7 linked regions of the Homo sapiens genome follow. The protein of the gene in region 4 interacts with the protein of the main gene of each other region in a pairwise test. Each region holds a gene or a part of one and is shown on either strand. Other genes may lie near its edges. The genes, in order: GSE1, TMCC2, RNF138, CFAP206, SAMD3, ZBTB32 and KLHL3.

Evidence for each region.
Region 1: the proteins of CFAP206 (region 4) and GSE1 interact in binary tests that used the Homo sapiens proteins (3 or more experiments, as listed by UniProt).
Region 2: the proteins of CFAP206 (region 4) and TMCC2 interact in a two-hybrid assay, tested with the Homo sapiens proteins (one large-scale study listed by BioGRID).
Region 3: the proteins of CFAP206 (region 4) and RNF138 interact in a two-hybrid assay, tested with the Homo sapiens proteins (one large-scale study listed by BioGRID and IntAct).
Region 5: the proteins of CFAP206 (region 4) and SAMD3 interact in binary tests that used the Homo sapiens proteins (3 or more experiments, as listed by UniProt).
Region 6: the proteins of CFAP206 (region 4) and ZBTB32 interact in a two-hybrid assay, tested with the Homo sapiens proteins (one large-scale study listed by BioGRID and IntAct).
Region 7: the proteins of CFAP206 (region 4) and KLHL3 interact in a two-hybrid assay, tested with the Homo sapiens proteins (one large-scale study listed by BioGRID).

Annotation. Positions count from the first base shown.
Region 1 is NC_000016.10:85,651,322-85,654,821, reverse strand, and holds part of GSE1 (genetic suppressor element 1), read right to left. Parts: intron 545-3,500; coding exon 372-544; intron 29-371; coding exon 1-28.
Region 2 is NC_000001.11:205,237,477-205,241,883, reverse strand, and holds part of TMCC2 (transmembrane and coiled-coil domains protein 2), read right to left. Parts: intron 1,153-4,407; exon of another isoform or gene 964-1,152; intron 380-963; coding exon 1-379.
Region 3 is NC_000018.10:32,122,513-32,126,919, reverse strand, and holds part of RNF138 (E3 ubiquitin-protein ligase RNF138), read right to left. Parts: intron 3,403-4,407; coding exon 3,346-3,402; intron 2,187-3,345; coding exon 2,075-2,186; intron 228-2,074; coding exon 120-227; intron 1-119. UniProt on the Homo sapiens protein: E3 ubiquitin-protein ligase involved in DNA damage response by promoting DNA resection and homologous recombination.
Region 4 is NC_000006.12:87,410,088-87,414,494, reverse strand, and holds part of CFAP206 (cilia- and flagella-associated protein 206), read right to left. Parts: intron 3,911-4,407; coding exon 3,827-3,910; intron 686-3,826; coding exon 595-685; intron 1-594. UniProt on the Homo sapiens protein: Essential for sperm motility and is involved in the regulation of the beating frequency of motile cilia on the epithelial cells of the respiratory tract. Required for the establishment of radial spokes in sperm flagella.
Region 5 is NC_000006.12:130,146,381-130,150,355, reverse strand, and holds part of SAMD3 (sterile alpha motif domain-containing protein 3), read left to right. Parts: intron 1-3,975.
Region 6 is NC_000019.10:35,702,441-35,707,433, reverse strand, and holds the start of ZBTB32 (zinc finger and BTB domain-containing protein 32), read right to left. Parts: upstream 2,877-4,993; 5' UTR 2,811-2,876; intron 1-2,810. UniProt on the Homo sapiens protein: DNA-binding protein that binds to the to a 5'-TGTACAGTGT-3' core sequence. May function as a transcriptional transactivator and transcriptional repressor. Probably exerts its repressor effect by preventing GATA3 from binding to DNA.
Region 7 is NC_000005.10:137,725,470-137,729,876, forward strand, and holds part of KLHL3 (kelch-like protein 3), read right to left. Parts: intron 1-4,407. UniProt on the Homo sapiens protein: Substrate-specific adapter of a BCR (BTB-CUL3-RBX1) E3 ubiquitin ligase complex that acts as a regulator of ion transport in the distal nephron.

The sequences.
Region 1 (3,500 bases), on a different chromosome or scaffold from region 4:
CACCACGTGGTGCACGGGCCGCTGGAGGCTGCAGGCGGGGATAGTGGGCAAGGTGGGGACAGGTGAGTGCACACCTGCTCCTGCATGGGGGGACGGCTAAACTCCCTGCATCACCCCTGGCGCTCAGTCGGCACCCAGACTCCTGGCACCCCGAACGAGGACGGGGCTTAAGCAGCGGGGGGAGCGAGCTGCCACTGCCACCTCAGTGTGAAGGGGCACAGACAGGGCTGCAATCCCCAGGGCTCAGCGGCCGACAACCATCTAGCAGGCACAGCCTCATCTGTGCAGACCGCAGGCTGCCTGGGGACCCAGACCCTGAGCACTGTGTCCCCACCTGGCCACCTCACCGAAGTCCCCGCCGACCAACTTACTTGAGTGGCGGGAAGCGGGAATCCTGCACAACTGAGCTGGGGGAGAGGCCGAAGGGGTAGGGGGTGCTGAGCAGGTGCGAGGGGATGGCTGGTCCCCCTGCCTTCTCCTGAGGGAGCGGGGGCTCCACAATGAGGCGTTCCCGACCTCCACTGCTGCTCCTGGAGCCGGCATCCTGCGGGAGGAGAGCGTCCAGTCAGGGCAGGAGCCTGGTATAGGCCACTGACCACAGGACACAGCCAGGTCTCCTGACTCACGGGAAGGCGCTAGATTTAGTTCATGTTCTAGAAACATCCTTTCCCTAAGGCTTTCTACGCAAAACATGGTGCATGTGGTGTGGGAAGCAGAACCGTAAGAAAGGGGATGTGGCTGCGACAGGTCTGGGGTGAAGTGCGTCTCGGGATCCGTCTCCCTCCCTGGGCCTCCTCAGTCCAGCAAAAGAACTAGAACCCCCCAGAAACACAATGTGTGCAGGTGAAGGATGCAGGGTGGCAGGGGCTCCTGCCTCCACCCCTCCTGGTGTGGACATCCGAAGGTCACACCAGACACACACCCGGGGAAGCAGACACCGTTGGCACCCAGCACGCCGTGAAGCGAGTGCCACGATGTAGCCAAGACGTCAACTGCGCCGACAGCTGCCCACCTGGCCGCAGATGTCCTGGCCCTGGTGCCCACGTGGAGGGCAGGGGCAAAGGAAGCTGGCACTGCCCCTGGGCCGAAGGTGCTGGTCTGCCCCCAACCACCTCCTGGGGTGGCCCTGGCCCTGGAGCCCACCAGAACAGGCAGCAGCTGGGCCCTGACTGGCCAGCTGGGGTACCGGCCTTCACACACACGGTGGGGCAGGGAAGGCAACAGCTCGCCTGTCCCAGGCTCCTGGACACAGTGGACCTGGGTGTAGCTGGGAAGGTGGTCCAGAGGACTCAGATGAGGGGTCTTCTCCAGGCACAAAGCAGGAGGAGGCAGTGGCCCAAAGCCCACCTTCCGGGCTGAGGTCCCTGCCAAGTTCAAGGATAGGCCGTGCCACCCCTAGCCACGCAGAGGCTGCCCCGCACACACGCAGGGTCCAGCCCGGAGAAACCAGAGCATGAAAAGGCCTTGCTTGTTCCTGTTATTCGTGTGACTAAGTGGGAGGAGGAGGAGGAGGGGGTAGGAGGAGGAGGAGGGGGTAGGAGGAGGAGGAGGAGGAGGAGGGGGTAGGAGGAGGAGGAGGAGGAGGGGGGAGGAGGAGGAGGAGGGGGAGGGGGGAGGAGGGGGGAGGAGGGGGGCGGAGGGAGCCTCAGGGCGGCCCAGATGGGGGCTGTGCTCTGGACTCTGGATGGCTGCCAACCCAGGCGTCACTCTGTCACTGGGGCAGCCGTTCTCAGCCCCAGCATCTTCCCCATGTGGGGACAGCACTGCCCAGGCCTACCCTGACCTGGGGGTGTCTGAGAGCCATGGCCACGCTGGCCCCTCTGAGCTTCCCAGGGATGCAGAGCCACGGGAACCCGGCCCTTCCTCACGTTCCATCTGGCCATGTCAGGTAACGACTGCTGATCAGCGGGCAGTGCTCCTGAAGAGCACCAGCCCCGCTCTGCCTCCCTGAGCCACGAAATGCCAAACACCCAAAAAACAAGGAGGCCATGGCCGTCTCCCCACAAGATCAGCAGGAATGATGGCCCAGGGGCTCTGAGACCTGCCCCACCGTGGAGAAGCATCTGTCTCCCAGGGGCCGTGCCTGTGTCCCTGACCCGCCAGCCCCTCTTCCTGGGCCCATCCATCTTCATAGCGGCAGACGGTGACCCGGCAGCAGCACATGGCACCCGCGCAGAGGCAGTGCAGGCAGCCCGGGCCGGCGCCTCCCCTCTCTCCACCCTCCAGGAGACAGTCAGCGAGGATTAACTGGAGGAGCCGCCGCCGCCGCCGCCGCCTGGAATCTTCAATGAGAGGCAGCATCTGCTCCCTTCCCGCGGGCTGAGCCCCGGCCCCCCTTCTCTGTAGGGTCCTCCTGGGTTCACGACTTCTGACCTGCCTCTCCAGGGTGCTGGTCTCGAGGGTGGGAGGTACACATGGGCACTGACGCCCTGCGTGGGGCCGGGAACTTCCTATTGAGGAGCCAGCGCCTGGCCTTGGGGTCTCCAGCCGGTGTCAGCAACCGGGGTAGTGGGGGAGTGGCCGAGGGGCCAACCTGACCTTGGGAGACCTGGCCATCCTGTCGTGCCTCGTGCACACATCAATGGCATGTGCCCGTCACGGCACCTGCTCAGAGGACAGCAGAGTTGATGGCACGGCTATGAACGGGCATGCGGGGGACTCACAGGGCAGCAGAGTTGATGGCACAGCTGTGCACGGGCATGTGGGGGACGCACCAGCAGGGTGGGGGCCCGGACATGGCAGGTGTGTTGCCAGGCTGGCCTGCCTACCCCAGCCCCGTGAGGCTATTTCCAGGCTGGGCTTCTAGATCCTGCCTCACGCCCCTACCCTGCCTGGCATAGGGCCAAACATCTGAGGAACGGAGCACGAGGAAGGACACACCCTGTTCCTAGGGTCTGGGATGGACTTAACAAGACGGAGTGGCCCCTGGCCCCCCAGCATCCAAGTAGCACCCCAATGAACACCAGGCCTAAAGCTAGTGGGTCTCTGGATGCCCAGAACAGGGGCCTCGCCTGCTCAGGCACCCGGGGTACCTGGACTCCCCCTCCCAGGCTGGTGGGGAGGCCTCCAGGGCAGGAGGGAGACGACAGCCAGGGGCTTCAATCATCACCCAGCCTTGGGTGGCCAGAGTCAGAAGAGGGCTGGAGGACAGACCTCGACCTGAGGACAGCACCCAGGGTCAAACTACCAACAGCCCAGGCCTGCCGCCCTCCTCCGCATGCTGCCCGCGCCGTGGGCCGGGTCAAACGGCAAAGCACAGGGCCCCAGCCGCCCCGCCACAAGGAGGGGCCTGTCCCCAGCCCAGACACGGCCCTTGAACCCCTTCTCCCCTCAGCCGAGGACAAAGCCCTGCTCGCAGGCCAGATGGCACCTTCCTGGCCTGGCTGAGGACAAACAGGGAGTCCGGGGGGCTGGGGGGCAGCCAGCAGGCGGGGCAGGGGCCCGGCGAGCCAGACCCACATGTCTGTGGCTTCCGTCTGGCTGGCGCCCGGCCAACCCTG
Region 2 (4,407 bases), on a different chromosome or scaffold from region 4:
GAGGGCTGCCACGCTGGGGCTCCAGGGAGCTACTCTTGGTGCGCCGGCTGCTGCTCCCGCTGCTGCCGCCCCCACTGCTGCTGTGCAGGCTGGCGCCCCGCTTGATGGAGGGCCGGGAGCGGATCTGCTGCAGCACGCGGTTGAAGGCGGTGGGCCGGGCGGGCAGGTCGTGCAGGGACATGGCGTAGGAGACGCGATGCATCTCCGGAGAGCGCTCCTTCTCATCTGGGGAGTCATGGTCGGACATACCCTGCTGCTGCTGATGCTGCTGGGAATCCTGAGACGTCTGGTGCTCCCTTTCCCGAGACCGACGGCGGCTGTGGAACAGGTGCTTCAGACCGTGGCCAAACATGGAGCCCTCTGACAGCTGCTGGATTTTCTTAAGGGGGAGAGATGAAGAACCCTGGTGAGTGGAAAGCTCTTGATTGCCTAGTCAGTAGGAGGGTGAAGGTGAAGGGTCTGTCCTTGGTAGACTGGCATAGCTAATGCAGCCATCTGAACCTGGAAGATCTCTGTGGATGGCCCGTCGTGCATAAAGGGTCAGTTTGCGAAAAGGTGGCAACCCAGACCCATCCTTTCATTCCGAAAGAAGTGTGCCCCCACGGTTTTCCACGGGACATTCCTAATCAAAATGAAGGTTCAGAGTTTCTAGGAATGATGCTCTCAGGGCTTCAGTCTGGGGCTTAATGGCATACACAGGTAGCACTTGGCTCATGGGGTTGTATCCCTCTAGATTGATCCCCACCCCCAGTCCTTCCCTCCTTCCAAGTTAGACGACCCTTCAAGCTGTACTAGTTCTTTCAGGCCACCAAGCATCGATTTCCAAAGTTGCCTAATTCCAACATTCCCCCAGTAAAATCAGGGTCATACAATCAAGTTATACTGTTGTAGCAGACACTGCTAATTGCCTACCCAATATCTATTTTTCTTTCTTACCAACCAAACTGCAAGGACTTAACTCACCTTGCTAAAAATTCCTGCTTCATCAGACTCCCCTTGCAGCTAGGAGTAGCCACATGACACAGTTTGGGCCAACGAAAAGCAAGGTGAGAGCTTCTGGGAGCACTTTTGCTTTCCTGATAAAGGCACTGGCCCTTCCCAAATCTTCCCATCTGGAATGGGAACGTAGTGCCTGGAGATGCAGTGGCCATTCTGCAACCACAAGATGACATGGTTGACGATGAGGGTCTGCACACAGATGGTGGAGCCCAAGGGACAGGCCTGGGAACTTGAAGGTCTATGGAGCCACCAAACCAGTTGTGAACATCTATCCTGGGATTCTTGTTGCATGAAATAAACCCATCTTTGTCTACACAACTCTAGTATGATTTTCTGTTATTTGCAACCAATTTCATTCCTGATATGGTTGGCAATGAAATAAACTTTACTTCTATGAGCAAACCTTGTGACATAGTAATGTGACCAATTCTTTAGCATACACATCAGAACAAGCTATCCAAATGAGTGTCTTTCCCCTTAGATCCAAAGCATAGAGGCACTGCAACCCGGTGCCGCCCAGGCCACAGCCTTTCCTCTTAGCCCTGTTGCTGAGATTCTCCAGCTGCTCTTCCGGCAAGACTGCTCACAGAGGGGCAGCTGGATGGCCTGCCAGGGCGAGCAACTGTGGTATAATTCCAGACAGCTGCTTCTGTCAGGGGACGGCTTATCCGGCCAGGTTGAGCCCTCTATGAGAGCTTTGGAGCTGTTGGAAGGAGGGGTGAGACTTGGAGGACCAGGAGACACCTCACATTCTGCAGCTCCTTAGAGGAAAACTCAGGGCCCAGCCATTTGGGACTCAATGAGCCATAGCAGGATTTCCTGTGAGGAACAACCCACAATCTTACCAGGCTGCCTCAGTCATTTAAAAAATGTTCCAAAAAATTACACAGACTGGATTTTCTTTTTTTTTTTCCCTAGAAACAAACTTACAGAGCAGAAAATCTAGACCATATAGAAACCAAGAAAAAGCAACCTGACATCCTCTAAATGAGCTGACCCCACTCTTAGGTTACTTTACAACTCAGCCTTGAGTTTGTGCAGATGGCTGCGCTTACAGCTGGATACAATAACTGTACTATTATGTATTTGTGTAAAATTTTAGGATTTTCATTTTTCACCTCATTTGAGTATCCCCAGAATCCTTAAAGTAGATGAGGCCCTTACATCACCCATTTTACAGACCAGATAAATTACATCATCACAACTCATCACGAACTAACGGTTTTTCATTTCAAAGGAGATTTGTATCCTGCATTATCCCATTGATTCTCCTAAATAGTAACAAAAGCAACAACGGAAACATCTCCATTTAGAGAAGAGGAAATTAAGGCTACCATGATTCCTTCTCAAGAACTGAATTCTGGGGCAGCCCTCGAGATCTTAAGTTACACAATGCCAGCTTTTCCCACAGGAGTTACCATCCCCTGGGGGCCAGCTTGAGGCAGGGTCACAAGGCTCACCTGAATCTGTGCTGGGGAGAACCAAGATGTCAACTCTGCCATGGACTTGGAACAGGCCAGATCCTGCAGCCTTCAGACCAGGGACCTGCCAGGACACCTCCCCCTTCCCCAGGCCCAAGCTGATGTGAGACCTCCCTCCAGACACTGTGATGGGGCCAGCTGGCTCTGGCATTTGCCCAGCTGCCTCTGCCAAATCGTCACATTCCATAATACGAATTGTCTTTCTAGCGTTCTATTCCAGGTCCCTTCCTCTTCTCCCCCCATTCCTAAACTGGCTTCTCCAACACTGAGGATCCACTCAGGCAGAAAGAGTTTCCCTTCTAAAGACTTCAGCAGAGGTCCTAGAGTTCTGAGGCATTTCCTCTCCCCTATCCCCGGGAGGCTGGTGGAGGTGCTGGGGAGAGCTACGGTGGCCACCGATGTCTGCCATATTGCCTTGGAGCCTAAAATCCTTGGTCAATTTACTTTTAAAATTTATACAACAGCATTTTGCAAAGTGCGTTCCGATTTATACTGTCATTATAATCTGACACTAGCCTAATCTCAGGAGCTAGGAATGTGAGATGTCACAGCATCAGTGTCTATTTTGCAGATGAAGAAACGGAGGCACAGCATAGCTAAGTGGCTCATCCAAGCCACACAGAGAAACCCCCGACTTCTAATTGAATTTACCTTCATGGGCCCATACACTGATTTCAAGACTTAAGATTTAAAGTAGATAGGGTATTTGCATGTGTCCCAGAATAGTATCAGAGGCAGGCGCCAAACAAAAATGCCTGGGTCAAGGGTTGTTAGGTCCCCTGAACTGCTGTTGTGACCTGCCCATCCCATGTTATGGGACAAGACCCTCAACTATAAAGTCTTTACTTCCCACCTCCCTGAGCTGTCCTGCAGCTGAAGGAAACCTAGGGAAAGTGACCAGGAGACCCCAGGACCTTTGTCCCAGCAGACCGAGGAATCTATTAAAGTCTGAGGCAGGCAGGAGGGAAATAACAAAAAGGAAGTCAAAGAACAAGGTGCAGAGAGAGGAGATTACTCCAAATGAAGGGGTTTTTCCTCACTGATAAGGTGCGAGGCGGGAACAGCAAAGTGACGCAAGGGCTGGGCCGCTTCTGCATGTGGGTGTCAGGGAGGAGATGGTTAAGGAGTTTTGACATAACACAGTAAGTGTTTTAAAAAAAAAAAACTCAGCACATACACATAACCAGCTACAAGTTTCAGAAGTGAGGAAAACCATGGTGACTAGCTTAAGGGAACTTAGCCGCCAACGCAGCAGAAAGCACCACCTGCTCTGACTAACAGGTTCCAGCTCCTAAAATGTCACTTGCTTTTCCACATTGACTTTTGCTTTTCCCTGGCTGCCAGAAACCATTTTGGTGGCCAAATGAAGCCATGCATTAGAGAGCTGAGATGCTTCAGAGTTAGAGGTGGCAAACAAACAGGGCTTTCATGATCTGTAAGACCGAAGCAAGAAGTGCCGTCCCCAGAACTGGCCATAAGGTAGTCAGAAAGGAGAGCCTCCCAGGGTGAGGTGCCCCGGGGAAGGAAGTGAGGGGAGTTGGCTGTCCCTCCCCTGGAACTATCTGAAAGGGCAGGAAGAGCCCCATCTCCTTGGGTGGCACTGTCCTTTCAGGAAAAAAGGGAGGACTAGATGGCTTCTGAAAGATCCTTCCTGAGAAGGCTGTGGTTTCTGAACAGTTGGGCTTCATCCGTCTTTCTCCCTGGGTGTGGGTCCCCCAAAGGGGAAGTTTGCTCCAAAATCTGCAAACACAGCTGCATGAATACAAAACTAAAATGCCTTGGGGTACAGTGTCATTGGCACCATCTGGTTAAAAATGACCAAAAGTGGTTTCTAATTTTTACAGGTACGTGTGTTCTCAACAAATCCCAGGAAAGCTTAAAGTCACACTAATCTATAGCTAATTATCCCACCTGGCAGCTGACTGCA
Region 3 (4,407 bases), on a different chromosome or scaffold from region 4:
GCTCTAAATCCATCCAGTAAGATACAACAGCTTGCCACAAAATTTAAGTCGATTACAAAAAAGTTATTTTAACTTTAATATTTAAACAGTACTTTCTTAATCTTGAAGAATTCACTTACCACAAATTCTCCATAATCAAATTGATGTCTCTGATTTAGATGACTAACGAAATTTCTGGTAATCTGGCTAGGATCTCCCCAAGGAAGAGACACACAAATAGGACATGTCTATAAGAAACAGATTGTTTTAAACAAAAAATAATAAAAACAATGAAATATTATACAATTGACAGTATTAAAATAACACAGGGATATGTTACCAAAAATATCTACGTGAGAAGCATTTTTAAAGGCCAAGTTCCATGACTAGATCATTTCCCAATCAATTACCTTAGATAAATGACATTAATCTAACACAGTGAGAAATCTTAGACATTCTATTCCTTAAATCTCTTATTACACAAATGTTTCAACAGAAAAACCACATCTAGCTTTTAATAATACCAACTGTAATGACAGTTATCACTAACTGGCTGCCTGCAACATATCCAATATATTATCTCATTTGATCCATACAATAACCATATAATTATTATTAGTTTTATTTCATTTGTAAGTAAAATAAAAATGAAGTAAACTGGAAAATTTACTTTAAATTGTATCCTTAGTTTTTCTTTTCTTTTCTTAAAACTAGAGACACAGTCTCACTGTTGTCCAGGCTGGGTCTCAAATTCCTGAGCTCAAGCAATCCTCCCGCCTTGGCCTCCCAAAGTGCTGGGATTAAAGGCATGTGCCACCACACCCAGCCATATCCTTACGTTTAAATGAAGTACATCTTAAAAACTGAATGGATAAATAACTGAAATAACACACAAAAAACCTTCAGTAATTAAACTCTAGCCAAAGTTTATGATATATCGAATATTATGCAGAAATGAATAAAAATTTGGTAATCCAATATAAAACTAAGTAAAATCTTAAATATGAGCGAGATTTCCTGGAACATCTTTGGCACTGTATTTGTCTATTTAAGCATAACTGAACCCATTCTAATAAGCAAAGTAGGTAGTACACCTTCTTAGGTGGTATGTGAGAGCTTAAGGTCATCCTCAATGGTTATTGAAGCATATTCTTTTTATTTTCTTTATTTTTAAATAGACAGGGTCTCACTATGTTGCCCAGGCTAGTCTCGAACTCCTGGGCTCAAGCAATCCTCCCCTCTCGGCCTCCCAAAGTGCTAAATTACAGGCATGAGCCACCGTGCCCGGTCCTGAAGCACATTCTTTCACAACTTTTCCTAGCATACTCACTAAAACAGCTTAGAAATATCTACAGTTCTTATTGATAACATTTTCCTTCCTATTCTCCTTTCTGAAGACAATTATTTATATATCAAAATGTTCAGCTGAAAGGGAAATCTCTCTCCCAGCTCAGTTTCTCCTGTTCCATTCACAGCTGAAATAACTTACCTATGAAACACTTCTAGGATCATTATATGTTGGAATCCTGAATTCTGCTCTATCTCCCTCATTATCAAAAAGCTCTCACCATTTTCTTACATACCCTCAAAATGTCAAAAAATATGTAGGCATCAAATACAAAGTCTAAGTCTTTTCCTTCCTTGCTTTATGCATTCACATACTATATGCTGCAAGAAAACAATAAAAATACCTACTGACTTTATTCTTACTTACAGGTATTTTCACCTACAGCAATCTACCTGACTAGATCTACTTGTCTGCCATCTACAGAGCAAGTAACTGAGGCCTCAATAGACAGGTTGTGCTACTGCGCAGGAATGAGTTCCCGGTTCATCTTTCATTACTTCACTCTTCTCCAGACTGTGCTATATTACCTCACACTATGCATCTCCCTTTTTATAATGAGAGTTACTGCAATTTTAAATATCTCATTTTGCTTCACAGTCATCAATCCTTTGTTGACAAAAATCTACCTTACTGATAATGCCCCAACCAAATATAAATCAACTACTTTCTCTTGCATACATGAAGTGAAATAAATAGAACAGCATGTTTTATTCTAAGCAGAAGACTGTCTCAAACGTATGTACTTACCACAGGAACTATCTGAAATAGGTGATTACTGTTACAGTGATCCAGTAAACGCTGTCTGGTAAAATTTGATTCTTGACACAGGGGACACTTAAAAGTAGGATGACCAGAAGAACTATAAAACAATTTTAAGTGAAACATACTTAATTCAGAATAACACAAAAATAACGCTCTCCTATTTTTTGAGGAATCACTATACATTTTTTAAAAAAGTTATAATTATTAGACTATTCAAAGATTCTCTCATTTTGAACATATGTATTCAGGAAATGATGCATTACAGAGGTTCCCAATCTCAGTTTACAGTACTCTTAGTGTCCTCAATAAATTTTTTCATGGCACCTCTAGGCCAAAACAAAAACAAAAACAAAAACCTAGCTGACTCCATATATTATGTAGTTAGGTCCAAACTTAATTGTAGTTGTTTTCTGATGCCAATAGCTGTCACTGTATGTCCCTTGAAAATTTTTAATATTCTGTAGTATTCCACATTTTGCAAACCTTTTATCTAGGAACTTAAAACTTCTAAAAGACTTCCATCAATATCGTATCTCTAATAAATACCAGGCCCTAGGAATCCAACATCCAAAATTCAAAGGAAAAGAAAAAACAAAAGCACTGATCATGAGAATGAAATACTCGAAAACATTCTGAGGATCAAGCATCACTGAGTTTTAATACTTCTGAATTTCAGGAAGGGACAGTTCAACACAGACAACTTTACCTGAATCGTGTGTGGAAGAAACCTGACCACAGTGAAAGAGAATAACTAAACTCTTCTAACCTAATGTGATTCTTAAAAGCAGTAACTGCATTTTCTATTTCTAAACTGCTAACTTCAAACACTATGCCTAATGATGTAACTGATTTTTTTTTTTTTTTTAAGTTTAATTTATGGCCAGGCGCAGTGGCTCATGCCTGTAATCCCAGCACTTTGGGAGGCCAAGGCAGGTGGATTATCTGAGGTCAGGAGTTCGAGACCAGCCTGGCCAACATGGTGAAACCCTGTTTCTACTAAAAATACAAAAATTAGCCGGGCGTGGTGGCAGGCACCTGTAATACCAGATACTTGGGAGGCTGAGGCAGGAGAATCACTTGAACCTGAGAGGCGCAGGTTGCAGTGAGCCAAGATCGCACCACTGCACTCCAGCCTGGGAAAACAAAGTGAGACTCCGTCTCAAAAAAAAAAAAAAAAAGTTTAATTTAAAAAGCTATTTGATAAGTGATAAATATAATATTACTTGCTAAAGTGGCAGGATTTTTCAAAAGCTTACCTTGTATTCTCTTGGTAAGTTTCTGTGTTATCAGATGTGGATGTTTCACTCCTATTGCTTAAGAAGCACAGGGGAAAAAGTTAATACCTCAAAGTAATGAAAACACACTAAAGGTTCATTATCTTGAACCATTAATGAAGAAGACTAGTCTGAATTTGTTTTAAAAGTCTGAACTTCAATACACCTTTTTCCTATTGGGTCCTTGAAAAAACAAAATTTGAACTTCAAATGGTTCTGAACTATGAAATAATTACAATATTAATTACTTTTAAATAAATTGACTGCTTACTAGATTCTTATTTATGTTCTTTAAAATTAACTTATGCACAGTTACAGAAGTATAGAGAATTTTGCAGAATTACCTTAAATCCCATTCCTCTACCTTTACCTAGACTAGTAAGGTTTTAAATGCTACGGTAGACTCAAGAATTTGTGAACTTTTTTACTTCAAACTAGGACATGGTATAAGGTTATGCCCTCCAAAGTGCAGTAATTTAAGAAAATATGTAAATGTTCATTATGTTTGTATTTTATTTCCAGAAAGGAAAGAAACCAGGCTTCACTAACATTTAATATACAGAACAACTTAACATCTCCACTTTTACCATATGCCAGAGAGTCATGTGTCACATGGAATATCAGAGGAATCCTGAGGGAAGAGTAAGTATTCCATACAGGGACCGTCACCTGTGTGCTACAGAATTTGATCAATGTGGTCAATTTTATTTATTTAGTTAGTTAGTTAGTTTTTGAGCTGGAGTCTCAATCTGTCGCCCAGGCTGGAGTGCAGTGGTGCAATCTTGGCTCACTGCAACCTCTGCCTCCTGGGTTCGAGCAATTTTTCTGCCTCAGCCTCCCAAGTAGCTGGGATTACAGGCGTGAGCCACCATGACCGGCTAATTTTTGTATTTTTAGTAGAGACGGGGTTTCGCCATGTTAGCCAGGCTGGTCTTGAACTCCTGAGCTCAAGTGATCCGCCCACCTCAGCCTCCCAAACTGCTGCGATTACAGGTGTGAGCCACCGCGCCTGGCCCAATGTGCTCAATTTTATAAAAGCAACGT
Region 4 (4,407 bases):
GAAATCCCGTCTCTACTAAGAATACAAAAATTAGCTGGGCATGGTGGCACACACCTATAGTCCCAGCTACTCGGGTGGCTGAGGTGGGAGAATTGCTTCAACATGGGAGTCAGAGGTTGCAGTGATCTGTGGATCGTGCCACTGCACTCCTGCCTGGGTGACAGAGCAAGACTCTGTCTCAAAAAAAATTTACATATTGAAACGTTTTCTAAACTTAAACTCCCCATCGTTCATTTTTGAATAGTTACATAATTTAGGTAATTATAATGAGATAATAACATAAACCAGGAACAAGAAAATCTATAAATTAAAAACTTTTAACTTCAATGGGCTGAATTCCTAATTATTATGTATTAGTGCCACTGGAAACAATAATTATGAGCACAATAATTGGAATTCACTTTTAACACTCACAAAGGCCAATGGTTTTTTTTCATTTAGCATTTCTAACGTTGTATTCCTCAAAGTTGATTGCCAAAAATTAAATTGTTAAATTGATTAAACAATTAAATTCATTGTCAACCAAATGAAGCCCTTCTTAGCTGAAACACAGTATGAAATTTTTTAAGTATAAAAATAGGTAGTATACATTACCTCGATTCGTATAATTCATATCGAAGTAGACTTGCATCTTAATAGTGTCCAGGGATGGATTTTTAGTATCCAATAGCCGAGTCATACAAAGCTAGAAAAGAATGTCCCATGAATACTTCTAGTTATAGTTTTTGAGACAGTCAAGTATTTCCTAAAGTTATTTTCAAAAATAAAGGGAAAAGCAGTGGTTCCTGATATTGATTCACCAATAACCCCTTTTATTTTTTTTTTCTCCTTGAGGACTTCAGGCTTTATAGTTTATTTAACCAATAACTTTTTTTATTTTTATAGATTTAGGGGGTACAAGTGTCATTTTGTTACATGGATATATTGCGTGTAGTGGTGAAGCCTGGGCTTTTAGGGTAGCTAACACCTGAATAGTGGACATTGTACCCATTAAGTGATTTCTTATCCCTCGCTCCCCTCTCACCCTCCCAAGTCTTCAATGTCTACTGTTCCACTCTCTATGTCCCTGGGTACATATTATTGAGCTCCCACTTATAAGTGAGAACATGTGGTATTTTACTTTCTGAGTTATTTCACTTAAGATAGTAGCCTCCAGTTCCATCCATGTTGCCACAAGACATGATTTCATTATTTTTTATGGCTCAATAAAACTCCATTGTGTGTATGTGTGTATACATTTTCTTTATCCAATCATCTGTTGATGGACACTTAGGTTGATTCCATATCTTTACTACCAATAACATTTGTTAAGTAATAAGTTATTTCCCTTGAGTTAACCAATAATCATCATGCCAGGTGGCTAGTAGTCTAGTTGAAGGCAAGAAACCTGATGTTTTGGTTAGTTTGAGCAGTCTAAATGTGGGTAAATGTTCCACAAAGCTTATATTCCAGTCTAAAACTCTTCTAGAGTTCCTCATTACTATTTATTTGTGCCTTGAACAACACTCCTCATTTTATTTTATAAAAAGCTGCTGCAGCTGGTGCAGTGGCTCACACCCGTAATCCCAGCATTTTGGGAGGCAGAGGTGGGCAGATCACCCGATGTCAGGAGTTCGAGACCAGCCTGGTCAACATGGTGAAACCCGTCTCTACTAAAAATACAACAATTAGCCAGGCATGGTGGCACACACCTGTAGTCCCAGCTACTCGGGAGGCTGAGACAGGAGAATCGCTTGAGAACCCGGGAGGTGGACATGGCAATGAGCCAAGATCATGCCACCGCACCCCAGCTTGGGGGACAGAGCGAGACTCTGTCTCAAAAAATAAAATATAATTAAATTAAATTAAATTAAAATTAAAAAGCTGCTGCAACCACCCCCCTCTCTTCACAAAATTTCTCTGGTTCTACCCTTGATATTTCTTCTCCTGGTCTGTTTTCTCCTATGAGCCCCCACATAGATGGCTCATTCCCCTTCTCTGCCTTGCCTCTTTATATTGAATATCAACCTCAGTTTTTCTTTCCTTCTCTCATCTCTACTGGTCACCTCCCTCCCCCACTTCCTTCACTGCTCACTCTGTAGGCTGAATATACTGCAGCTGGCAGGCACTTGGCAGCATCACTCTCAACCCATCTCCCTGAGCACCAGCCCTGCTTTCCTGGGAGGAGGGAGGGGAGAATGCAAGACTGAGGATTGGACACTATGTCTTTGCAGAAGCCTGTGCACCTGGATCCCTCCACATACAGAAGTACTGTTCTAAAATGCACACTTAAAAAAATAGCTCATCCACATGATTTTTAGTTGAGAAAAAAATTGTCACTTGAATATAACATATGTTGTTAGTTTATGTACCTGTCGTACTAAAAGTATATTGGCTTGATTCTTTCCAACTTAGTTGAGTTGGGGAATTGGGGGGAATGGAAAACTCTTCTTGGGTCATGACAAGGAGAACAACTTATTTTCTGCCCCTCCTGGATTCTCTTCCACGGCTTTCCAATAAAATTTCTGACTGCCACAATCACTTCCCCTATTGCTAAGAACAAGCTTTATACCATCTTTTCTCTGCATCCTCACCAATATCTGTTATGTTTTTACTTTTTAAAGATATTCTAACTGGTGTAAGATTGTATCTCATTGTCAGAATAGAAAATCCAGACACAAAGCCACATACCTGCAGTCAGGTGATCTTTGACAAAGTCAACAGAAACATACACTGGAGAAATGACATCCTATTCAATAAATGGTGCTGGGAAAATTGGATTACCATATGCAGAAGAATGAAACCCATCCCAATGTCTCACCATATACAAAAATTAACAACTCAAGATTGATTAAAGACTTAAATGTAAGACCTGAAACTATAAAAATAACAGAAAAAAACCTAGGGGGCTGGGCATTGGCCTACGCAAAGAATTCATGACTTAAAAGTAAATGCAACAGAAATAGACAAATTGGATTTAAATAAACTAAAAAGCTTCTACACATCAAAATGAATAATCAACAGAGTGAAAAGACAGCCTGCAGAATGGGAGAAAATATGTACAAACTATGCATCTGACAAAGGACTAATATTCAGGATCTACGAGGAACTCAAACAACTCGACAACAACAAATAACCCCATTATAAAGTGGGCAAAGGCCATGAATAGATATTTTTCAAAAGAAGACATACAAATCGCCAAAAAGCATGAAAAAAATGCTCAACATCACTCAGCATTAGAGAAATGCAAATTAATTTAGTTCTATTTAACTTCACAGTATATGACGAACTAGTTAATGTTTGCAATGTAAGACATTAGTAACAAGGTTTCACTAAAATACTGTAGCAGATGCTGCTACCTGCCCAATTTCCCTGCCCTTCCTTCCTTACTAACAGAGCCTCAATTTGGATTGGGGCAAGGATTTATTCATCTAAGAAAGAAAAAAGAAGTGAAATGTCCCTGGGTCACTTACAATATCATTCTGGTCAATAAATGTTAAGTAGATGGGAGGGATTCTGGGAAAATTATTATTTTCTGGATAGAAGGTGATAGACCCAATTGGCACACATATTTTGCCCTTTGTCTTTCCCCCTTCTTTCTGCCTAGAGGCAGGGTAGCTATCTTTTGACCACCAGATGACCATATTGCAAGGATGGTGTGCCCCAGGAAGCCAGGAAGAATGGTCTATGTCTCTCCAGATTTTGTGTTATGAGAAAAATATCTCGTGTATACTACTATTTTGTGGGCTTTTGTTTCATGCAGCTGAAGGCAATAATGACTAATACAAATATTGTATTTACAACTGAGAATAAGTAATTGCAAATTTGAGGACTGTTGGGTAATCACCTTAACAAGATTCTGCACATCACTTTTCATGAGGGTTCTATCCATGTTAAAGCCATTACTTGGATCCAGGACAACAGCTTTCACCTAGAAAAAAGTAGGAACGAGTCCATTAACTAGGAAAGAATCCATTAAGCAATTTTATTTCATATTATTAGCTTAATATGTTTCCATTTTTTAAACAACTACCTCTTGATTACGTTGGGGTTGGTTTTCCAACTATTCTTCTTATTACTGAACTCATCAGTACCCTTGTTAGAGGTTGAAAAAAGGAAGCAACAAACATCAAACTTGAATATGGTGCTAGAAAAGTTATATGGGGAAATAAGTTGAAAGCAATGGCTAGGTTTTCAATTGGGAAACTATGGCATATTTTATTGTATTTTTATTGTGTATTGTTAACCAAAAGCAAGAACAGAGAAACCACAGCAATGAGTAATTTTTAACAACGGCAAACAAAAATACACGTCAAAAAATTCCCACACAGGAGAACATTATTGATGTTTCCAAAACTCATCAAGGTCTTCTAAATGTCTCTATAAATCTAGAACTCACATGCTCTATAAACTTTTTAAAAATGTTTT
Region 5 (3,975 bases), about 43 Mb from region 4:
ACTGTATGCTGGATGCTGATTCAGAGCTTATACAGCCTGGGAGAACCTTGTCCCAGCCCCACAAGGTATTGCCACCTAGCTGGTGCTGTAACTGAGTCTTCAACAGGCCACTCCACCAGTCTGGCAAGCCAGCTGCTTCAGGACAGGACGGTGGGGAACAGGATAAGACCAGTAAATTCCATGTATCATCACCATAGGGAATCTCAGCAGAGAAATGAAATACACGCACACACACACGCGCGCACACACACACACATGAACCAAATTGAAATTCAGAGCTGAAAAGAACAGTTATCTGAAATGAAAACATCACCATGTGCGTAGGCTTAAAAGCATATTGGAAAATGAAAAGAAAGGAGCTGTGAATCTGCAGATAGATTAATAGAAATTATCCAGTCTGAGTAACAGAAAGAAAAAGGATTAAGATGATTAATTTGTAGGACATAATCTGGGGTTGTGAAAAGGGGGGCTTTCTTTTTGTTCCAACTTTTAGGTTCAGCAGGGGATACGTCGTGCAGGTTTGTTATATAAGTAGATTGCATGTCGTGGGGGTTTGGTGTACAGGTTATTTCATCACCCAGGTAGCGGGCATAATACCCGATAGGTAGTTTTTCGATCCTCACCTTCCACCCACCCTCTAATCTCAAGTGGACTCCGGGGTCTATTGTTCCCTTCTTTGTGTCCATGTGTACTCAGTGGTTAGCTCCCACTTATAAGAAAGAACATGCAGTATCTGGTTTTCTAGTCCTGCATTAATTTGCTTAGAACAATGGCCTCCAGCTACACCTATGTTGCTGCAAAGGACATGATTTCATTCTTTTTTATGGCTATGTAGTATTCCATGGTGTACATGTACATTTTCTTTATCCAGTCTGCTATTGATGGGCATCTAGGTGGATTCCATGTTATTGCTATTGTGAATAGTGCTGCAATGAATATATGTGTGCATGCGTCTTTCTTTATATTCCTTTGGGTATATACCCAGTAATGGGATTGTTGGGTCAAATGGTAGCTCTGTTTTAAGTTCTTTGAGAAATCTCCAAACGGCTTTCCACAGTGGCTGAACTAATTTACATTCCCACTAGCAGTGTATAAGTGTTGGAGGCTTTCCTGTGGCTGACCATTCACAGCTGGGAGCTTGGCTACACAGATGTTAGTGCTCATAAGTAAATACACTGAGATATAATGGGAGCCAGGAATCTCACTGTTGAAGAGAGTTAGAAGCTTGGGAAGGGGAAGGTTAGGAAAAGCCCTGTGGTATTGGTTTGGAATTGAAAGTATCAATGTGAATTCATGGTTTTAGTCTTTATGTATGGCTATTTAATATTTACATATATAGTTATTGGTGTTTCTGGATCAACGGGTGCCTTTGTTTATGTAAATTCAAACATTTCCTAGATTTCTTCTATGAGAAAGTCTAAAGCAATAACATCTCCGTAGCAAGTTGCACACCAGGGCTGAAATCTTGGTTTTTTTTGGTTGGGTTTTTTTTGAGAAAGTCTCTCTGTTGTCCAGGCTGGAGTGTCATGATCATGGCTCACTGCAGCCTTGGCCTCCCAGGGCTCAGGTGATCCTTCTACCTCAGCCTCCTGAGTATCTGGGACTACAGGCATGTGCCACCATACCTGGCAAATTTTTGTATTTTTTGTAGAGACAGATTTCGCCATGTTGCTCAGGCTGGTCTCAAACTCCTGGGCTCAAATGATCCTTCTGCCCTGGCCTCCCAAAGTGCTAGGATTATAGGCATGAGCCACAGTGCCTGGCCTGAAATCTTAGTTTTTAAAGCCATTCTTCATGAAAAGGAATTAGGGTTCGTGGAGAAATAGCTCACTACAGGGTTGGGGGCAAAACAAAAATGAAAACAACAACAACAAACCAAGACGAGTCAAGACGAGTCTGAAATACTGTGTAATGCCAGAAATGAAGGAAGTGCTTGCACACTAATAAGGACATGCCAAGAGGGCACGGCAGTCTGTTTGAAGCGACTCCTACTGGCCAAGTCTGGGCAATTCGAGCAATTCTATAAATAATGAAAGGATCAGATTTGTAACCGTTTGGGTAAAATGGGAATTGATTAACCTGTAGTGATAGAAATAAGTAAGTAAATATATGTGGAAGAAAAGAAACTATCTTAAAATAGAAAGCCAACTAATCCATGTAGAAAGAAAGGAATTAGAAAAGTCACCATTTGGCAACTATTGTAGTAGTACTTGATTCAGGCAAGAATCATTAATGGATGTGGAATCTGATGGATCAAAGTTATACAAGGAACAAGATATTGACATAAACTCAAGGTATCTCCTCATAAAATACAACATATATTAATTTTACGTGGAAAAACCTGGTGAATTCCATTTCTAATCAAGTAATAAAAATTATCTCCAATACTGGGACCAGTTACCATTTTGTGCTTCCGGACACAGTGAGAAATGCTAATATTCTTGCCAGAAATGCATAAATCTTGAAATATCATAAAACTTCCAAGGAGAAATGTTCTACAAAGTAACTGGCCTCCACTTTTCAGAAACCGTCAAGGAAACTAACAAGTTGTTTCAGACTGGAGACTAGAGAGGCGTGGTATCTAAATCTCATATGGGATCCTGGATTAGATCCTGGGCCTGTTAAGAATATGACTGGAACAACTGGCAAATTTGAATGGAATGTGTAGTAGATTTTCCTGAATTTGGGTGCTCTTGTACTTAGGAAATACACAATGAGGTATTAAGGAATAGTGGGGCATTGTATCTACAGCTCATTTTCAACTGGATCAGAAATTGGGGGAAGCTGCACAGAGGGCACTTGTAAGTTCTGTTTACTATTTCTGCAACTTTAATGCAAACTTGAAATTATTTCAAAACATAAAAAGTCAGAAAAGAAATTCTTAGGCTATGAGCCCAGAACAGTGGCGTATTCACCTCCTTCATCCTTCCCTTCACATCTTCCTGCTGAGAAAACGGTTTTCTAACGGTATTAATCTAGATTAGTGGTCCACTGTGGGTTGCCTGGTAACAAAGCCACTATGCCTTATGCATTCCAGCTTTCTGACAACTTAACTTTCAGACCTAATCTCTAGGCAATTTATGATCTACCAAAACATTCAAGGAACAATGAGGCCCAGTGGGTAGTATGTGATTGTTCTTTATAGTTTTAGGAAAAGCAATGACTAAATTAATTCACTGGAGTGTGGGTGGCTAATAATCTGATAATGCCACTGTCAAAAACAGGAGGGGGAGTGGTGGTGGAATCCTCTGAGGGGGAAGAGTTCAGGCAGTGGTAGGATGGGGTAGTTTGAGGAAAGGGACTTCCATAAAGTAAACTGGTTTTGCTTTGAACTTGTAGTCAAATCTGCACATACATTGTTTCTTTTTCTTTCTTTTCTTTTGAGACAGGGTCTCACTACGTTGCCCAGGCTGGAGTGCAGTGGCACAGTCTCGGTTCACTGCAGTCTCGATCTCCCCGGGCTAAGGCAATCTTCCCACCTCAGCCTCCTGAGTAGCTGAGACTATACACGTATGTTGCCATGCCCAGCTAATTTTTGTGTTTTGTAGAGACAGGGTTTTTCTGTGTTGCCCAGGCTGGTCTCAAACTCCTGGGCTCAAGTGATCCTCCTGCCCTGGCCTCCCAAAATGCTGGGATTATAATCATGAGCCACCGTGCCCAGCCATATATCGTTTTTCACTGTTTACCTCTGTCTACTCTTAGTTTCTAAAGCACTCTCCTTTACCTAAATTTAGGATACTATGGTTAAGTATTTGTCAGGGCTTGCTTCCTAAAATCTAACAGTTTTGTTCTTTGCTGCTTGTTGAACAAGACATAACAATGTAGTCACCTAAAGAAATGTAAGATCTTAGAACCTTAGCTGGGTAACCCAAATAGCCTGCATATGCATACACCCTTTGAATCCTCATTTAGTTGAGTCTGCATCCAAAGTTTTAGTTCTGTAGGTTTAGAAATTTGCCATGCCCATTATTTATC
Region 6 (4,993 bases), on a different chromosome or scaffold from region 4:
CACACCACTGCACTCCAGCCTGGTAACAGAGCTAAGACTCCATCTCGAAAAAAAAAAAAAAAAAGAAAATGGTAGACACTTATACCACTTGGCATATGAATGCATGACAAGAGATTGACAGATTACTCTGAGCCTCATGGCTGGAGAGGTTAACTATCGTCTAGCTTATTCTTTACCCTCCCCTCCTCATAATATACATGCATACCATTAATTGTTCTTTTTTTTTTTTTTTTTTTTTAGAGACACAGTCTTGCTCTGTCACCCAGCCTGGAGTGCAGTGGCACAATCATGGCTCACTGCAGTCTTGACATCCTGGGCTCAAGTCATCCCCCTATCTCAGCCTCCTGAGTAGCTGGGATTACAGGCATGTGCCATCATGCTTGGTGGCTGTCTGCCGAGCTGGGATTAACTGCACACTTCATGTGCCAGCACCCCGGGCCCCCACCACACCATAGAGGGAATGGCCAATTGAGCTGCCCCAATATTAACTGGTTTCGGGGTTAGACTTCCTTGAAGTCCACTCATAAGCCACTCCTTGCACCCTCACCCCTGGTTAAAGAACTCTGGGTGTACTGAAGGCACTCCGAAAGCATAAATACCACTGAACAGCTGAATGAAACTAGGTATCAACACCCTGCCCCATGAGTATAAAAAAGATCATCAGTAAAGACAACCTGGGTGATTTCCTTTATGTTATTTACTTATTTATTTTTGAGACAGAGTTTTGCCCTTGTTGCCCAGGCTGGAGTGCAGTGGCGCGATCTCGGCTCACTGCAACCTCTGCCTCCTGGGTTCAAGTGATTCTCCTACCTCAGGCTCCTAAGTAGCTGGGATTACAGGCATCTACCATGCCCGGCTAATTTTTTGCATTTTTAGTAGAGATGGGGTTTCACCACGTTGGCCAGGCTGGTCTTGAACTCCTGACCTCAGGTGATCCACCTGCCTCGGCCTCCCAAAGTGCTAGGATTACAGGTGTGAGCCACCACGCCCTGCCAAAAACCTGGGTGATTTCCTAAAGAGGAGAATATCTCACACACCTCTTCCTGTGCTCCACTACGATGTTCATCCTCCCCATGCACCTGCCCCGCACCTACAGCCTGATATCTTCATCTTCTAGGAATTATCAGAACAGGCATGGGAAAGAGTGGGACAGGGAGAATGAAAAGCTCCAGACATGACCCAATTCCAGTTTTTTTTTTTTTTTTGAGATGGAGTTTCGCTCTTGTTGCCCAGGCTGGAGTGCAATGGCACGATCTCGGCTCACCGCAACCTCCGCCTCCCAGGTACAAGCGATTCTCCTGCCTCAGCCTCCCTAGTAGCTGGGATTACAGGCATGTGCCACCACGCCCAGCTAATTTTGTATTTTTAGTAGAGATGGGGTTTCTCCATGTTGGTCATGCTGGTCTCAAACTTCTGACCTCAGGTAATCCGCCCGCCTTGGCCTCTCAAAGTGCTGGGATTATAGATGTGAGCCCCCACGCCTGGCCCTGCTTTTTTTTTTTTTTAATTAATTTTTTTTTTTTGAGACAGAGCATTGCTCTGTTGCCCAGGCTGGAGTGCAGTGGTGCGATCTCTGCTCACTGCAACCTCCGCCTCGTGGGTTCAAGGGATTCTCCTGCCTCAGACTCCTGAGTAGCTGGGATTACAGGCACCTGCCACCACACCTGGCTAATTTTTGTATTTTTAGTAGAGACAGGGTTTCACCATGTTGGTCAGGCTGGTCTCGAGCTCCTGACCTGGTGATCCACCCACCTCAGCCTCCCAAAGTGCTGGGATTACAGGTGTGAGCCACCACGCCTGGCCACCCAATCCCAGTTCTGTACAGAGCCACCACAAGGCAATAATACTTCATCCAGCGCAAACAGCTCGGCTGGGATTCAGAATCCTTCTCCCTAGAATCTCCAGAGGATTACTGGCCTAACCTCTTGGCCACATCATCCAACCTGGACTCCATACTGGGAAATCTGCCAAGAACATCTCAACCTGGAGTCCAGAACATTCACTCCCAGCCCAGGCTGGCTCCAAAGACCCCAGGAAACCTTCATGTGCACACTAGTTTCATCTCTTGGCCAGTGACTTCCTACATAACTTTTTTTTTCTTTTCATTTTTTTTCTTGAGACAGGGTCTCATTCTGTCGCCCAGGCTGGAGTGCAATGGCGTGATCTCAGCTCACTGCAACGTTCATCTCCTGAGTTCAATGAGTTCAAGCGATTCTCCTGCCTCAGCTTTCTGAGTAGCTGGGATTACGGACGTGTGCCACCACGCCCAGGTAATTTTTTTTAGAAACCCCGTAGAGACAGGGTTTCTCCATGTTGGCCAGGCTGGTCTCAAACTCCTGACCTCAAATGATCCACCTGCCTCAGCCTCCCAAAGTGCTGGGATTACAGGCGTGAGCCACCGCGCCCAGCCCCTGCATAACCTTTGGAGATCCACAGGCCTCTCCTTTCAGTCACCGGATCCAGGCTCAGTCCAGAGACCCTTGATAAGCTCTCATTGTCCGGAGGCCATACCTCATGCAGAGTTAAGGACCTCCAACTTCCCCACAACACCCTTCCTACTCAGGCTGGCCTCGGGGGCCGTGGACCAACTCAGAGAGCAAGCTGGCTTAGCCTCTGCCAAACCTAGGCCTAAAGGTGGCCAGGAGGCTGCATTTCCAGCCTCTCAAAGGCAGAGGAAAGCCCCAAGGGCTAAAGCCCTCAACCCGCACTTCCCAATCATCAACGAGGTCCAGTCAAGCCCCCATACCCCAGATTTGCCTGGGCCGGGCCCAAGCCCAAGAAAGTAAAGTAAGAAAAACTATGGCACTCACCGGCCCAGACCCTGTTCCTCCTTCCCTTTCAGCCTCACATACACCCAGGACGGCTTAAGGCCGAGTGACCGTTAAAAGTGGGGAATGGAGCGAGGCCAGGGACGCAACGCTCCCGCACGTGGTCACCCCTGGATCCTGAGGCGGACGCTGATTGGCTGCAGCGCGGGCCGCATTCTCCCGCTCAGGCCAGCTGAGCACGCTGGGCAGCCTGGGAGGCACCTAGGACAGCGCCACTCCCGCGCGTCTGCCTCGGACCCGCAGCTGATTGGCTGTGAAGGGGCAGAGCCTTGAGTCTCATTGGTCCATAGGCTTCAGGCCTCTTAGGCTGAGATTTCATTGATTTCCAGCCGGGCCCCAGCGTTGATCTGCTGTGGAGTCTGCCTTTTCCCACTCTCTCCACGAAGAGACTGGACCCTGATTCTCCTTCACCTGAACAGCCCTGGAGGCTCCCTCAGCAAGTGCTCAGGAGTACTACTGTCCTTTTTTTTTTTTTTTTTTTTGAGACAGAGTCTCGCTCTGTCGCCCAGGCTGGAGTGCAGTGGCGCGATCTCTGCTCACTGCAAGCTCCGACTCCCGGGCTCACACCATTCTCCTGCCTTAGCCTCCCAAGTAGCTGGGACTACAGGCGCCCGCCATCACGCCCGGCTAATTTTTTGTACATTTAGTAGAGATGGGGTTTCACCATGTTAGCCAGGATGGTCTCGATCTCCTGACCTCGTGATCCACTCGCCTCGGCCTCCCAAAGTGCTGGGATTACAGGCGTGAGCCACCACGCCCGGCTTTTTAAAAAATTATTATTTCATTTTTATTTTATGAACGGGGTCTCCCTCTGTTGCCGGTGCTGGGGTGCAATGGTGCAATCATAGCTCACTGCAGCCTCGAACTCCTGGGCTCAAGCAATCCTTCCACCTGGGCCTCCCAAAATTCTGGAACTACAGCCGTGAGACACCGTGCCTGACCTGCCTTTCTTGCTTCTATTTTGCCACCCTAAGTAGCTCCCATTTGCAAACCCTGTCACCTTTCTCTCAACCCTTTACCATCTGTGAGGTGTGTAGGGGGTGTGTAGGCTGCCGCCACACCTGATTGGCTGGGAGGCCCGTAAGAGCAAGCCAAGGCCAGGCACGGTGGCTCATGCCCGTAATCCCAGGGCTTTGAGAGGTCCAGGTGGTAGTAGGATCGCTTGAGCCCAGGAGGTCGAGGCTGCAGTGAGCTATGATCACACCACTGCACTGCAGCCTGGGCGACACAGTGAGGCCCTGTCTCTAATAAATAAATAAAAATAAAATAAAAGAGCCAGCCAGGCAGGGCACGGTGGCTCACGCCTGAAAACCCAGCACTTTGGGAGGCCGAGGAGGGCGGATCACCTGGGGTCAGGAGTTCGAGATCAGCATGACCAACATGGTGAAACCCCGTCTCTACTAAAAATACAAAAATTAGCTGAGCGTGGTGGCGGGCGCCTGTAATTCCAGCTACTCGGCAGGCTGAGGCAGGGGAATCGCTTGAACCCCGGGAGGCGGAGATTGCAGGGAGCCTATATCGCGCCACTGCACTCCAGCCTGGGAGACAGAGCGAGACGGCGTCTCAAAAAAAAAAAGAGCCAGCCAGGCTTCGGTGCCTGTGAACAGCTCCCTTTTCTCTCTTGTCCCACTCCACCACGATTGCTGGCACAGCTCACTCTGCCTCGCCTGGAAGCCTGGAAGTGTACAGGGACAGGAAAGACACAAGAGGGGGGCAGTGCCTTGCCCCGTGATTGGCAGCGTGACACTTGCACTTCCAATTCCCACTGCCACCTCGACTGTATGCTCAGCCAGGAGTAACTGCGCGCGGACGTGTCAGCACTCCCACCTCCAACCATACCGCAGAGGGAACGGCCGATTGCGCTGCCCCAACATTAACTGGCCCGGGGGTTAGACTCCCTCCAGCAGGGTTTCCCCCTGGGCAGGGCTTCGGGGCTAACAAGCTGCGAGCTCGCCCCTCGCCAGTCTCCCGAGGTGCTTGTCTGCGGGGCTTCTGGCCCGGCCCCCGCGGCGGTTGCACCGCTGATTGGCTGGCTCCGCTCCTTTCTAAGTGGCTTAGCCTGGGATTCGTTCTCAAGCATAGCCAATGAGACGCCAGGGCGCCTCAAGCAGGCGGGCATGACTCCACCGCTGTCGCTTCTGATTGGCCCTAAGGCTCGTCTTCGC
Region 7 (4,407 bases), on a different chromosome or scaffold from region 4:
GCAGCTCAAGCTACTACACAAAGGAACCTTCATCTGTATCCCAGTGTCCAGGGTTCCAGCAACATTCAAGTTGAGCAGCCATATTTAAGATTCAAATGGGTCAACAATTGTAGATGTAGTGAGAAAGTATGGGCCAGGCAGAATCTCTGCTCTTTGCTATAGAAATATACAGAAATGATCATCTAAGCCATTTTCTAAATAAACTCTAGCAGAATCAGAACACATGAATCTAGTCAACTTTGTCAAAGCACCAGATATCTGGCTCAATACTTTAATTAATTTCCACACTGGCCTGTTACTAGTAAACTTGCTTATATGAACCACTACTGGTGCCATGATGAACCCACTGCAGTGGATGGTTCAACAGCCCACAGAAAGGGTGTTGCAAATTGGTTCTGACTTATCTCACACTCACAGATACCCACTGACCCCATTCAGGAAGACATACATGTGAGACAGTCAAGCTTCATAGCCATAAGGATAGACATAGTTGGCCCTTCTTTTCTGGGCTTTCAGCTTCTCTTTTCCCCTGACTTAGACTATTACAGTGGCCTCCCACCTGCTGTTCCCCACTCTAGATACTCTCCCTCCAAGTATTTCCTGCACACCATCGCCAAACTGATCCTTCTAAAATGTCATCTGACCATGACTTTCAGATCCTCACTGCACACAGGTCTCTTCGGGGCTGTGAGGTTTATGAGCTGAAGCTTCAGTCACAGCCCTCTGCCTCCATTTGTTCTATATGTTGAGGGTCCACATAAAATTTCCTTTCAAAGGACTCTATAGCTAAAAAGCTGAAAAATCATCAGTCTACAGGATAAAGTCATGATTCTTGACTAGTATTCAAGGACCTCCTTGACCTGGACTGAACCTAAATGCCAGCCTTACCTCTCTCACTTACTCAAATATTTACTAAGTACCTATTATGTGCCAAGCAGATGAACCGTTCACTGCAGACACCTATATTTCCCTTCTCTTTCCCTGTATCATAATCTAAATACCTGTTCTTTGAGGACCAATTAAACTTTACCTCCTCCATGAAACCCTCGGGATACATCAGTTCTAAGTGAGCTCTTCCTTCTCTGAATTCCTGTAGTATTTCTGGCCTGTAACTCAACTGGCACATAGAATTCTGCCTTGTGCCTGATTACTTTTTCAGGGTACAAATCCAACCACCTACCTGCCTCACACTAGATTCAACATACCCAGAGGGCAAGGAACATGTGTCTGAGGACTCTGTATAGCTTAGCCTGCCCAGCATGAGGTCATGCCCACAGTAGGTCCTCATGACATATTTGTCATCTGAACTCTACCTGAAGACCCTTCACTTGTCTTTACAAGCGTTAGATGGTAGAGTAGAAGGGGATAGTCTGACCAACACTTTTATTTTTTAATGAAAGCAGAGTTGGCCTTCAGAGTTAAATTATAAATAAAATATACATAAAATAGTAATTATAAAAGTTATAAATAAAAATATATAAGCTCTAAAAATTAGGCCCTCTTTTAGCACAGCACCTTCCAAAGCCTTCTTTCTTGCCCTCCTCTATCCTCTAAATTACAGATCCACATATCCAATGTCTTATTTGACTCCCCTAATTAGATTTTACACAGGTAATTCATACTTATTCAAAATTTATGTTCCCCACCCTCCCTTAAGCCTGCTACTCTTTCTGTATTCTCTATCTCAGAGGCATAACCAACCACCCAATCACCTATCCAAGCCAAAAACTGGGGTGTTATCCTTGATATCTTCCTCCCTCTCTCTCTCTCTCACTCCTCACATACAGCCATAAATCGAATCAATCCTATGTCCATTAATATCCCTGCACCCCATTTCCTTCTCACTTTCGCTACCATTACAACCCCATTCCAGGTCATCATTGTCTCTTGCCAGGATTATTATAATAACCTCCTCCCAGACTCCAGAGGGACTTTTCCAAAATGTCAATGTGTTCCAGGCATGTTCTACATGAAGCCTCACTGATTCCTCACTGCATTCAGAATAAATCTCAGGGACCTAGCCTGGCCCTTAATCCCATCGTTGCCCTGAAGACTTCTTATTACCGTAATACTAAAATACTTGCAATAGCCAAAATACACTAGGCTCTCTGCCTTGTGAAGTTTTGTCTCACTAGAAAACTGTTCTATCTTATTCCCCACTCATTCTCCCGTGTCTAGCTAGTTCCTACCAGCCTTCAAGCCTCTTCCCTGAAGCCTTCCCTCTCATTCTCCACTACTCACTAGATTAGTTAAAATCTAGTGGGAAACTAGGTTAGTTTCCCCAGTTCTGTATTCCCACAGTACTGTGCTTCCTTCTGTATTGTATTCTAATTACCTCTTACTTATCTGTCTGCCCCACACAGTGTGTGCTGGTAAATGTTTAACAGTTGATTGGGAGGAAAGGAGCCCTGATTTGTAACATTTGCCAATTTCCAGACTGTAAATACTCCCACCATGGCAGATTTTAAGCTACCAACATGATGCCACCGAACATGAGATTTGGGAAGAGATGTGCAACAGCACACCATCATATCACTGTATAGTATTTCTACACCAAGACACAATAGACATAACCTCAAAGCCCTAGAAGATTACAGTAAAAAATAATTAGAAAGTGATGAGTTTGGGGTATTTATTACATTCATTTTTAATATAATTTATAAGTTACATAATTTGTTAATAATGGCTATATTTAATAACTGGCTCCGAAAATTCCTGAAAATTTAACAAACAGCTTTTCCAAGTGGGTGAGTGCTGACTCCAGCACACTGCTGCCCCCTCTAGATTGTGAGCTCTCCATGAGAACCAAGACAGTTATCTTAGTTGCCTCTGAATTCTTAGCTTCTGTCACATGACAGGTGCTCAATGAATGATTACTGAGTAAATTAATAGGTAGATAAGTAAATTAGGTTTAACTACTGACCACTGTAGCTTTCCTCACTCCCCTTCATTAAAATACTGATGGCTTTGTCCCCCTCAACTTTCTCTCCATGACCCCTCCACCTCACGTTCAGAGAGGAGTACTTTCTTAGGCAGCCCAGTCCCCTGCATTGATGACACAGAATCAGGAGGATGGGAGTGAGAGAAAGCCAGCAACAACTAGAGAAGAGGGAAGAAAGTGAGATAGGTTACTGCTTACTGTGTCAGTTCTTAGACTCTTTCTATTGCTGAGGAAAATGGAGGCAGTGAATGGAAAGGAAAGGATACTAAAAAACATGCTAGAAAGGCAGGGGATAGAAGAGTCTCCAAGCAGGCTGATTGTGCAGCAATGTTTGGGGGAATCCAACAAATGAGGAGCTCCAAGTGATGAGAACTCACGGACACAAAGAAGGGAACAACAGACACTAGGGCCTACTTGAGGATGGAGGGTGGGTGGAGGAAGAGGAGCAGAAAAAATAACTATTGGCTACCTGGGTGATGACAGGTACTAATCTGTACAACAAACCTCTGTGACACAAGTTTACCTATATAACAAACCAGCACGTGTACCCCTGAACCTAAAATAAAAGTTAAAAAAAAAAAAAAGAAAAGAAAAAACAAATGAGGAGTTCCAGAACATCTTGGGTGTGCGAGAATGTAGAGGGAAGGAAAGTGGAGTCTGAGAAATGCTGTTAAAGGTTATGATCTGTTTCACCTCTAAAGGTCTCCAAGAGATGCAAATAAAATTCAGAAGTCATGAGCTGATACTGGCCACATACAAGAGGCCCAAGCACATTATGTTCAAGCTAGAGATGAGATGGAATAAAGAGGCAAAACCACTCAATGAAGGCAAAACAACTGTGAGCCAGGGCAAAGCTGTGCTGAATGCATTAAAAACTCTCAACAAAGAAAGTGTCATTTAGAAAGGAATAACCAAAAACTAAGAATCAGACAGAGAAGAAAGCCCTCGGTCCAACCCATCACACTCTGTCTAGGAAAGTGATTTAATCATCAGATATCGTCAGCTGGTTCAGCCTCAGGTCAGATCCTCATGGTGGAGTTTGAAGTCTGTAAATACTCCAATGCCATAACTCAGTCCCTAGTTTACTCTGCAGCCTTTTGACCAGTTTGGCCTCCCCCGTGGTTGTCCTTCAGAGAGGTAGAATGTGGTTGCAGGCCCTCAGGAATATCTTGCCAGTAATATTTTACTGCAAATCAATAAACTGATGACATGTTGACTATTGTATTTTAGGTTCTCATGAGGTCATTGGCATGACTCTGCTTCTCCAACTCTGGACAGCAATGGGACCCTATATAGATAGGATTTCTGAGCCCCTGGCACTCTGGTCAAACTGCAGATCTAGTAAGTATCCCAATCCTAAAGTTCAAGACCAAAATGATCAAACTTAGATTTCTACTTCTGGATTAATGAAGAACCTGACTCTTGAAGATGTCCAGCCAGCAGGATTCAGGACTTGGTGGTGCAGT